2 separate regions of the Homo sapiens genome follow, and region 2 is linked to region 1. Evidence: fine-mapped expression QTL. A gene starts in region 1. The other region holds a variant in brackets. All regions are shown on one strand. Distances are between the middles of the regions. Region 1 holds the start of KLHDC4 (kelch domain containing 4). Region 2 has its middle 64 kb from the start of KLHDC4.

Region 1 (4,376 bases):
ACATGCCTGGATGCCCAGGCTGGGTTTCTGTGAAATTCTCCAGCTCCTTTCTGCTCAGCTCCTAACCGGTTTTTTTTTTCTACCACCACATAGGTTTCCTACAAGCAGTGCTGGAGACCATGGTGGTCTTCAACCAGTGCTATCTTTTCTTCTCATTATTTCCCCAAATTTCATTTTTCTTCTTAAAGAGCTAGGTTTATGGATAAGGCTTGGAGTGGGTTGGAAAATCATTCCTCCTCAGCTGCTCAGTGACTAGTCATTGATTGGATCTAAGGTAACTTTTTTTGTTTTTGAGACAGAGTTTCGCTTTTGCTGCCCAGGCTGGAGTGCAATGGCGTGATCTGGGCTCACCGCAACCTTTCCTCCCGGTTCAAGCAATTCTCCTACCTCAGCCTCCTGAGTAGCTGGGATTAAAGGTGCACACCACCACACCTGGCTAATTTTTTTGTATTTTTGTAGAGACGGGGTTTCACCATGTTGGCCAGGCTGGTTTTGAACTCCTGACCTCGTGATCTGCCCACCTTGGCCTCCCAAAGTGCTGGGATTACAGATGTGAGCCACTACGCCTGGCCGAGTTAACTTCTTCTTTTTTTTTTTTTTTTTGAGACGGAGTCTAGCTCTGTTGCCCAGGCTGGAGTGCAGTGGTTCAGTCTCGGCTCACTGCAACCTCTGTCTCCCAGGCTCAAGCCATTCTCCTGACTCAGCCTCCCGAGTAGCTGGGATTACAGGTGCGCACCACCATGCCTGTCTAATTTTGTATTTTTAGTGGAGATGGGGTTTCACCATGTTGATCAGGCTGGTCTCAAACTCCTGACCTCAGGTGATCTGCCTGCCTCTGCCTCTCAAAGTGCTAGGATTACAGGCGTGAGCCATCACACCTGGCTGGATCTAAGATAACATCTTTTTTTTTTTTTTTTTTTGAGATGGAGTCTTGCTTTGTCGCCCAGGCTGGAGTGCAGTGGTGCAATCTCCGCTCACTGCAACCTCTGCCGCCTAGGTTCAAATGATTCTTTTGCCTCAGCCTCCTGAATAGTTGGGACTACAGGTGGGTGCCACCACACCTGGCTAATTTTTTTTTTTTTTTTTGTATTTTTAGTGGAGACAGGGTTTCACCATATTGGCCAGGCTGGTCTTGAACTCCTGACCTCGTGATCAGCCCGCTTCAGCCTCCCAAAGTGCTGGGATTACAGGAATGAACCACCACGCCTGGCCTAAGAGAACTTTTAAAGGCTGACTCACACACAAAGTAATAAACTAGATTATTTCCTGATTTATGCTTTCCCTTTGCCAAATTTTGGCTTGTCCTTGTCCTTAATTTGCCTTATTCCTTGATTACCCATCCAAAGATGACATCTTCTAAGTAGTGATAAGCATTTTTACTCTGCTCTTTCAAATCATAACATTCCATGCACTGCAGATGATTTTGCCATTTCTTACGTAATTTGAGGCAAATCCTAGAGTACAATTTCCTAGCAGGCATTTGGATATTACCTATCTTTATTTCTCAGGCTCCACAAATTGAGTACCCTTTCAGGGTGCTATCATTAGCTCTAGCCTACCTATGAAGAAACAAAAGTCCTCCATGTTAGGACATTTGAGGACATGCCCTTAGTACCTAACAGTGTCTGGCACATTTTAAATGGGAAGGTGGAAGGGCCCCCCCATTTTTTTTTTTTTTTAAGATGGAATTTTGCTCTTTTGCCCAAGCTGGAGTGAAGTGGCTTGATCTCAGCTCATTGCAACCTCTGCCCCCTGGGTTCAAGCAATTCTCCTGCCTCAGCCTCCCAAGTAGCTGGGATTACAGGTGCCCACCACCACGCCTGGCTAATTTTTGTAGTTTTAGTAGAGACGGGGGTTTCACCATGTTGGCTAGGCTGGTCTCGAACTCCTGACCTCGTGATCCACTCACCTCGGCCTCCCAAAGTGCTGGGATTACAGGCGTGAGCCACCGCGCCCGGCAGGGACTGTCTTACTCAGGATCTGCAAAATCTTATAACTGTGTGAAATTTTTTTTCTGGGAAAAAAGCACTCATTTGTTTGGTCTGAGGGGAAAAAATGGGGCTAGCCCAAGAGTCGCCCACTTAGTTCTACCCAGGGCGAAGCAATGTGCCTTAACGGGGGGCACGTGCACCCCGGAAAACTCAAGAGAAAATGAGCCGGGCGTGGTGGGCTCCTGTGGTCCCAGCTACTCCAGAGGCGGAGGTTACAGCGAGCCGAGATCGCGCTACCGCACTCCAGCCTGGGCGACAGAGCAAGACCCTGCCTCAAAAAAATAGAAATAAAAAATAAAACTCAGAGGGCACGTCTCCTAGGACACGGGGACAGGCTAGGTGGGGGCACAGGGCGTGAGAATTGGCGAGCATGGCCGGGGTATGTCAGGCCGGGGCTGCCATCTTTTTTGTTTTTTGAAACAGGATCTCGCTCTGTCGCCCAGGTTGGGGTGCAGGGGCGCATTGCTGCCTGGAACTCCTTGACTCAAGCGATCTTCCCGCCTCACCTTCCCGAGGAGCTAGGACCACTGGGCGCGAGACACCACGCCCGGTTAATTTTTTTTTTTTTCTTCTGTAGCGACTGGGGGTGGGGGGTGGTGTCTCGCTTTGTTGCCCAGGCTGATCTCGAACTCCTGGACTCAAGCGATCCGCCCGCCAAGGCCTCCCAAAGCTCCAGGGTTACAGGCATGAGCCACCGCGCCCAGCCCGGGGCCGGTCATCTTTTCCGGGGCCTTATGCAGAGTCCGAGGCCCCCGAGCCCGCTGCCGAAGACGGAGCTCCAAGACCGAACCTCGTAAAGGGCCCAGCCGCACCTCTACCCGGAAGCGGCTCGAACTCGGGGCCGGAAGTGACTCCATTTCTGTGCGCCGAGCTCCGCCCCACGAGCACCTGTTTCCGAGCGGAGAGCGCGGGCCGTTTTCTTTCCTGGTGTCCCGTCGCGGCTTGGGACCCGGCAAGATGGGCAAGAAGGGCAAGAAGGAGAAGAAGGGCCGCGGCGCGGAGAAGACGGCCGCCAAGATGGAGAAGAAGGTGTCTAAGCGCTCGCGGAAGGAGGAGGTGAGCGGGTCAGACCGGGCTTAGCGGCCCGACGTCGCGGCCGTGCAGCCTCGGCCGACTCCCTGCGCCCCCCGGGGTTACGGGTCGGCCGTGGGAGCCGCGCCGGCCCTGCGGGAGAGCTGGAGGCCGTAGGAACTGCCCCGGCGCCGCGTCCGGGCAGCCCAGACGGGGCCCGCCCCCTCCTGAGTCTCCACGTGTGTCTGTCCGCTTCTCGGAGCTGCCCCCTTTAACGTGCTTGCTTTTCTTAGTGTGGTGTCACGGGCGTTTTTCTGCGTTTCCTCCCCCTCCTCCCTTCTCCCTCCACCCTCCCTCTGAAGGGAGGCTGGGTGGTGAGAAGAGGGAGGGGTTTGGCACAGGAAGACCTGAGGTTGAGCCGGGGGCTGCCTCTGCATGATGTGTGGTCTGGGAGTAAGACTCTTAACTTTTCTGAACCTTACTTTTCTTTCAAAAGAGGGCAAATAATCATCACAGCAGCCCTGAGCAGTGAGCAGCAGATGGTTAAGTGAAGAAGGCACTGGAGCCACGGGGTATCCCGTAGCAGCTGATGGCGGCCATCACGGTTGTCTCCTTCCCTCTGGTCCTCAGCCCGGGGTCTGCAGGAGGATCCGTCCTGACCTTGGGGTTGAGTGTTCTGCGGCTGCTGCTCATGGATTCCCTAACCGGGGCCAGTTTTATGGCCTGCCGTGCGCCAGGCACAGCTCCCTGGGCTTTACTCCTCACGAGCAGGTCAGTTCCGTAGCACTGGTATTCCCATTTGACAGGAAGACCAACAGGTGAACCATGAAGTGGTATGGAACTGGGATGTGACCAGATGTCCTGAATCAGGAGCTCTTGACCACAGTCCTTTGTCCCTTTTCTTCCTAAGTCATTGATCTCTCCATGTCCTCATCTCTTAAATAATGGAGTTGGACTTTTCCCTCACACTCCTCTTAGGCTCTTTCTTTTTTTTTTTTTTTTTTTTGACAGAGTCTTGCTCTGTCACCTAGGCTGGGCTGCAGTGGCATGACCTGCTGGCTAGGGTTGTGGCACAGGAAGTCAGTTCATCTGTGTGGTATCTTCAGAATGGTGCTTGGCAGAAAGTAAGCACTCAGTAACCAGCTGTTAGCTGCTTTCTGCTTTTTTTTTTTTTTTTTTTTTTTTTTTTTGAAGGAGTTTCACTCTTGTTGCCCAGGGTGGAGTGCAATGGTGCGATCTCAGCTCACTGCACCTCCGCCTCCCAGGTTCAAGTGGTTCTCCTGCCTCAGCCTCCCAAGTAGCTGAGATTACAGGCATGCACCACCACACCCAGCTAATTTTGTATTTTTAATAGAGACCGGGTTTCACCGTTTT
Region 2 (4,376 bases), 65 kb after region 1:
ACGGCCTCAGCCTGCCTGCCTTTGTGCATGGAAGGAACTTGCTAGTGACCGCTGCTCTCCTGGGCAGTGTAAGAGTGTTGTGTGGAGGCCGGGGGCGCTGGAGGCCAGTCTCGTTTTCATAGCCCAGATGGCTCCCGGCGCAGGTTGCAGTCACCTCCATTACTCTTTCACGAGAGAGCTGCAGCAATGCCATCTGGGGCCTGGCCACACCTGGTCACTGGTGTCCCGAGGCACACAAGCAGTCCCTGCCGGAAGCTGACACACTGTCATGGCCAAGGGCCACAGTGCAGGTACCACGGTGACCCGGCTTCCCTGAGTCCAGCTCACGCCCGTTTTCCTTGTCTCAACCTTCAGAGCCCTTCCAAGCCCCCACTGGCTGCAGCCCACCCAGGGGACCCACCTTTAGAGGCTGGACTCAGGCTTCACTGAGGGGTGAGAAGCGCAGGTTTACAAAGCTCTGGCTGGGAAGAAATTGAGTAACCACTCCCTGAGAAACAAACGGAGACGTTTAATTACATGAACGCACACATTTTAAAAACCGCCTGTGCACTCCCGGAGGGCAGAGCCTGCCTCTCTGGTTATTTTTGTGTCCTCCATTCACTTACAGGCTGTGACAAACCCTGTGCCCACGCTGCCTCCACTGCCGGGAGACTCAGGGCTGGGGGAGACATGCCCTGGTCACCACTGCGGAGACTCAGGGCTGGGGGAGACATGCCCTGGCCACCAGTGGTGAGCCAGCGAGACAGGACCCCACGCGCGCTGACCCGGGGACGCCATGGAACTCACTCGCGATTCCTGCACGCGCGCTGACCCGGGGACGCCATGGAACTCACTCGCGATTCCTGCTCACAGCACGTTTCCTGCTCGAAAACCAGGAGAGCCTCCACGTGCCGACTAGCTCTGTCCACACATCCATTGCGCAGCTCTGCAGCGGAAGGACCTTCAGTAAAGACGCTGGTTTGTAACGAGAGAAGCGTTCCAAAGTGTCACACGACATTGTTTATTACTAAAAGGAGCAGAATTTCTTTTTAATCTTGACAGTGTTGTTTTCGTAACAGTATGATTTAAACTGTTACATTCATTTAGGAAAACTTTTTTTCATTTCATAAGTAATCAAGCTATCTTTCCAGCTTAAAAGCAAAGAAAAAAGGCTCAGGGTAACTTTTTAAACCACTTCATCAATAAGAAAAGTTCTCTCTGTCATTGCACGGCGTGATTGTACACAGTATTAGCAAGCAGTTCACATGCGCCAGGGCCGACTTGGAAGGAAACACAGGTTAACACTGTTTCCTGTCCGAGTTCACAGAGATGTTTGCAGCAGGCTCAGTTGCTTTGGCAGCTGGAGCGAGGGTGCCTCTTCCGCGTGGCTCCCCTGAGCAGAGAGGCCCCTGTGGTTTTTTTCTCCGCCGGGCTCTGGGGACAGGGTTTCTGTGGAAATGGCAAATGGTGCAGATGAGCAGAGTCCTGCTAGAGAGGTCAGCTCAGCGTCCAGGAGGGGGCGCCTGCCCCCGAGGAGGCCACGGACATGCCTGGGAAGTTGCTGCCGGAGAAGTGTGCTCTGATGTGGCTACATTTGGGGACGCGGGCTCCCCAGAGGCCCAAGCGAGAAAGCCGGGGGTTCCCAGGCTGGGGGTGCAGGACGGGCCAGGCACTGCCCTGCAGGGCCCGCCCCCCTGCCCCTGCACCCTCACACCCATCTTCCTCTCTCAGCCTGACCCCAGGGCCTGGGAGCCCCCGGCAGACCGGCCCTCCTTGCCAAACAGTGGCTGCCCTTTATGGACTCGGCGCCTGGCAGAGCCACTGTGGAGGAGGAGTTGGCTGTCATGGTCAGGGGAGGCAGCCCTTGGGTTGTCAAGGTTGGTGGTCAACGTTGAACCCATATCTGCTGGAATCTCCCGGTCTGTTCCACACACGATCATGCGGGAAGCTCTGGGACCCGAAGGCTGTTCTGATCTCGGGGGTCACAAGTTCTCACAGCAGCCTGGGGTCACCAGGGACCAGACCCGGCGTTAGCCTCTGTAAGGAGCTGCCTGGCTGCTGGGCTGAGCTTTGTTGCAGGCCCAGGAAGATGACCAAGAAGGACAGAGCAGAGCCCCATCTACCACTGCTGGGAGGGCC[C/T]GAGGGAGCACGTGCACAGCAGAGCCCCATCCTCCACTCCCTGGGCTCGAAGAGGCTTCCTCGGTGTGGATGGCAGCTGTTAACGAGCAGTGGTGGTGCAGCTGGAGGCCTCTGTCCCATGGGGCACAGACGGGAGAAGGATGGCGGACGGGTGTGCACGCTTGGGAGGACGGGCGGGCGGCATAGGCCTGAGCAGGTGGCATGGGCGCACGAGAAGGGTGTGTCTGAGACAGGATGTTTATCCCAAATGCCAGGAGTGGACGAGGCGGACGAGTGGCAGTGAGGTAGGCATGTGAGGTTGTTGCCTGGCCCACTCTGCCGACCCCAGAAACCCAGCGGCCTGGGCCCAGCACCCGGCTACACATGGGGTGAGCTCACGCCCACACTGTGGCCTGTGCCCGTCACGGGGCTGCTTGCTTCTCCTAGGCTTGGGAACAAGCTGGCATGAACGCTGTGGCCGCATTCACAGCTCAGGCACTTCCACTTTGGGTTTCATGAAGAAACAGACTTAAAGAGCATTTGTTCCTAATGGGTGGGCTGAAGCTTGGGAGGAGCATTCAGCTTCTCTCCACAGTATGGCTTCACCTGTTCCTGAGCGCCCTGCTACCCTCTTGCTAACCTGGGTGGCTGAGGTCCTCTGCTTTGGTGGCGTTGACTTCCCGTCTGCAGCCAGCGCCAGGTGCCAGCCCCCGCCTCTGCTCATCGGGAAGCGCTGGCCTGCAGGTGCTTTGTGGTTGCCACGGACCCTTGTTCTGTCCCTTTCCAGCACCCACCCCCCACGCGCTGTGCATTCCGTAGTTCATTTTCAAGGCAGGGGGCACATGGTGAAAATACAGCCTGGCTTTTTTTCAACAAATGCAGCTGCACTCTTCCTTGCTTGTTTTGAAGGCTGAGCCAGCAACCTCCTTGGCACCTGGGGACAGTCGCTTCCTCAGTTTCTGCGTACCGACTGCCTCACCTGACACGCGGCCTGGGCGCGAGAGAAGCCAACCAGGTGCCTGAGTTGACTGACTCCTTCCGCCCTCCAGCTTCCTCCCTCCGCCCTCCAACCTCCTCCCTCCACCCTCCAACCTCCTCCCTCCGCCCTCCAACCTCCTCCCTCTGCCCTGCAACCTCCTCCCCTCTGCCCTCCAACCTCCTCCCTCCGCCCTCCAATCTCCTCCCTCTGCCCTGCATCCTCCTCCCCTCCGCCCTCCAACCTCCTCCCTCCGCCCTCCAACCTCCTCCCTCCGCCCTCCAACCTCCTCCCTCCGCCCTCTGCCCTCCTCCCTCTGCCCTCCAGCGTTCTCCCTCCTCCCTCCACCCTGTTTCCTCCCTCCACCTCTTCTCTCCTCCCTCCACCCTCTTCCTTCTACCCTCTTCCCTCTGCCCTCTTCTTCTGCCCTCCTCCCTCCACCCTCTTTCCTCCCTCCTCCCTCCACCCTCTGCCCTCCTCCCTCTACCCCCTGCCCTCCTCCCTCCGCCTTATCTGGAATCGGGGTCTTGGTCCTGGGCTGGAGGCAGACCCTGGCCCGGGCGAGGTTAAAGGTACTGCAGGAGGGCGGCATCATGATGTCCTGAAGCTTGTTGCGCCCGGTGCTGTCGGCCGGCTGAAGGCAGAAACAGTCACAGCACCTGCAGCTATGGAAGGCGACGACTGAAAATCTAATAGGCACCTTGATGTCAAGTTTCCAAGACCAAAGGCAAGAACAGTCAGATCAAACTTCGGAAGAGTCAGAGAAAGTGAGCATGACCTAGAGGAGGGAGACGGTCCTTCCGCTGTCTCCTGCAGAGCGTCTGTCGCACGTATGAGGTGAAATCCGCACTGTCCCATGAAGACTGTGAGGGGAGTTGCCACCCGCACACGGCCCAGGAGCGCCAGCAGCTTGGGGACCACCACAGGCCTCAGGGTCTCTTCAGTCCGACGGGTCCAGCTGTCGATAAAACCTCCCGGGGAAGGAGTAAAGGACAACCAAGAACCTGAACTGCAAAAGTATGAAAAACATTTCATTTCCCTCGAGTTCTCCACACTTTAGGTCTGCAGCGCCTTGGGGGTGACTGATGGCCCTCCGTGAGACGCGGTGGCCATGTGCTTCTACAAGTGAAAAGGAGCAAGTGTGGTTAGAGCCTGGAGTATGGACGTCCCGGGGACCGCTGGCCCATGGCCTGGCTTGGGGCCTTACAGGGGAGCGAGCTGAGTGAATGCAGGGGAGGGCCCGTCTTTCTACAGTGTGTATCTTGTTTTTGAGACAGACTCACTCTGTCGTCCAGGCTGGAGT

What was found. PIP is the estimated chance that this variant, and not a neighbour inherited with it, causes the effect.
Region 2: its variant is the best candidate, but not a certain one, in a credible set for the expression of KLHDC4 in CD8 T cells (CEDAR, PIP 0.88).

The regions. Positions count from the first base shown.
Region 1 is chr16:87,764,463-87,768,838 of GRCh38, reverse strand. KLHDC4 (kelch domain containing 4) reads left to right here and starts at 2,853. Exons shown (of 12, transcript NM_017566.4): 1 at 2,853-3,047. The coding sequence starts at 2,949. It overlaps LOC105371399 (a long non-coding RNA gene), which reads right to left and starts at 2,798. Exons shown (of 3, transcript XR_933871.3): 1 at 2,498-2,798. LOC102724467 (a long non-coding RNA gene) reads left to right here. Exons shown (of 4, transcript NR_120309.1): 4 at 2,415-2,508. RefSeq lists enhancers at 2,758-2,817, 2,898-2,957, 2,941-3,565.
Region 2 is chr16:87,699,664-87,704,039 of GRCh38, reverse strand. It overlaps a transcript of KLHDC4 not described here. Among named protein-coding and RNA genes, the nearest start is that of KLHDC4, 64 kb to the left of the region's middle. RefSeq lists enhancers at 65-1,264, 1,300-1,549, 2,280-2,329 and a silencer at 1,670-1,729. The variant C/T (reference allele first, on the strand shown) is at 2,119.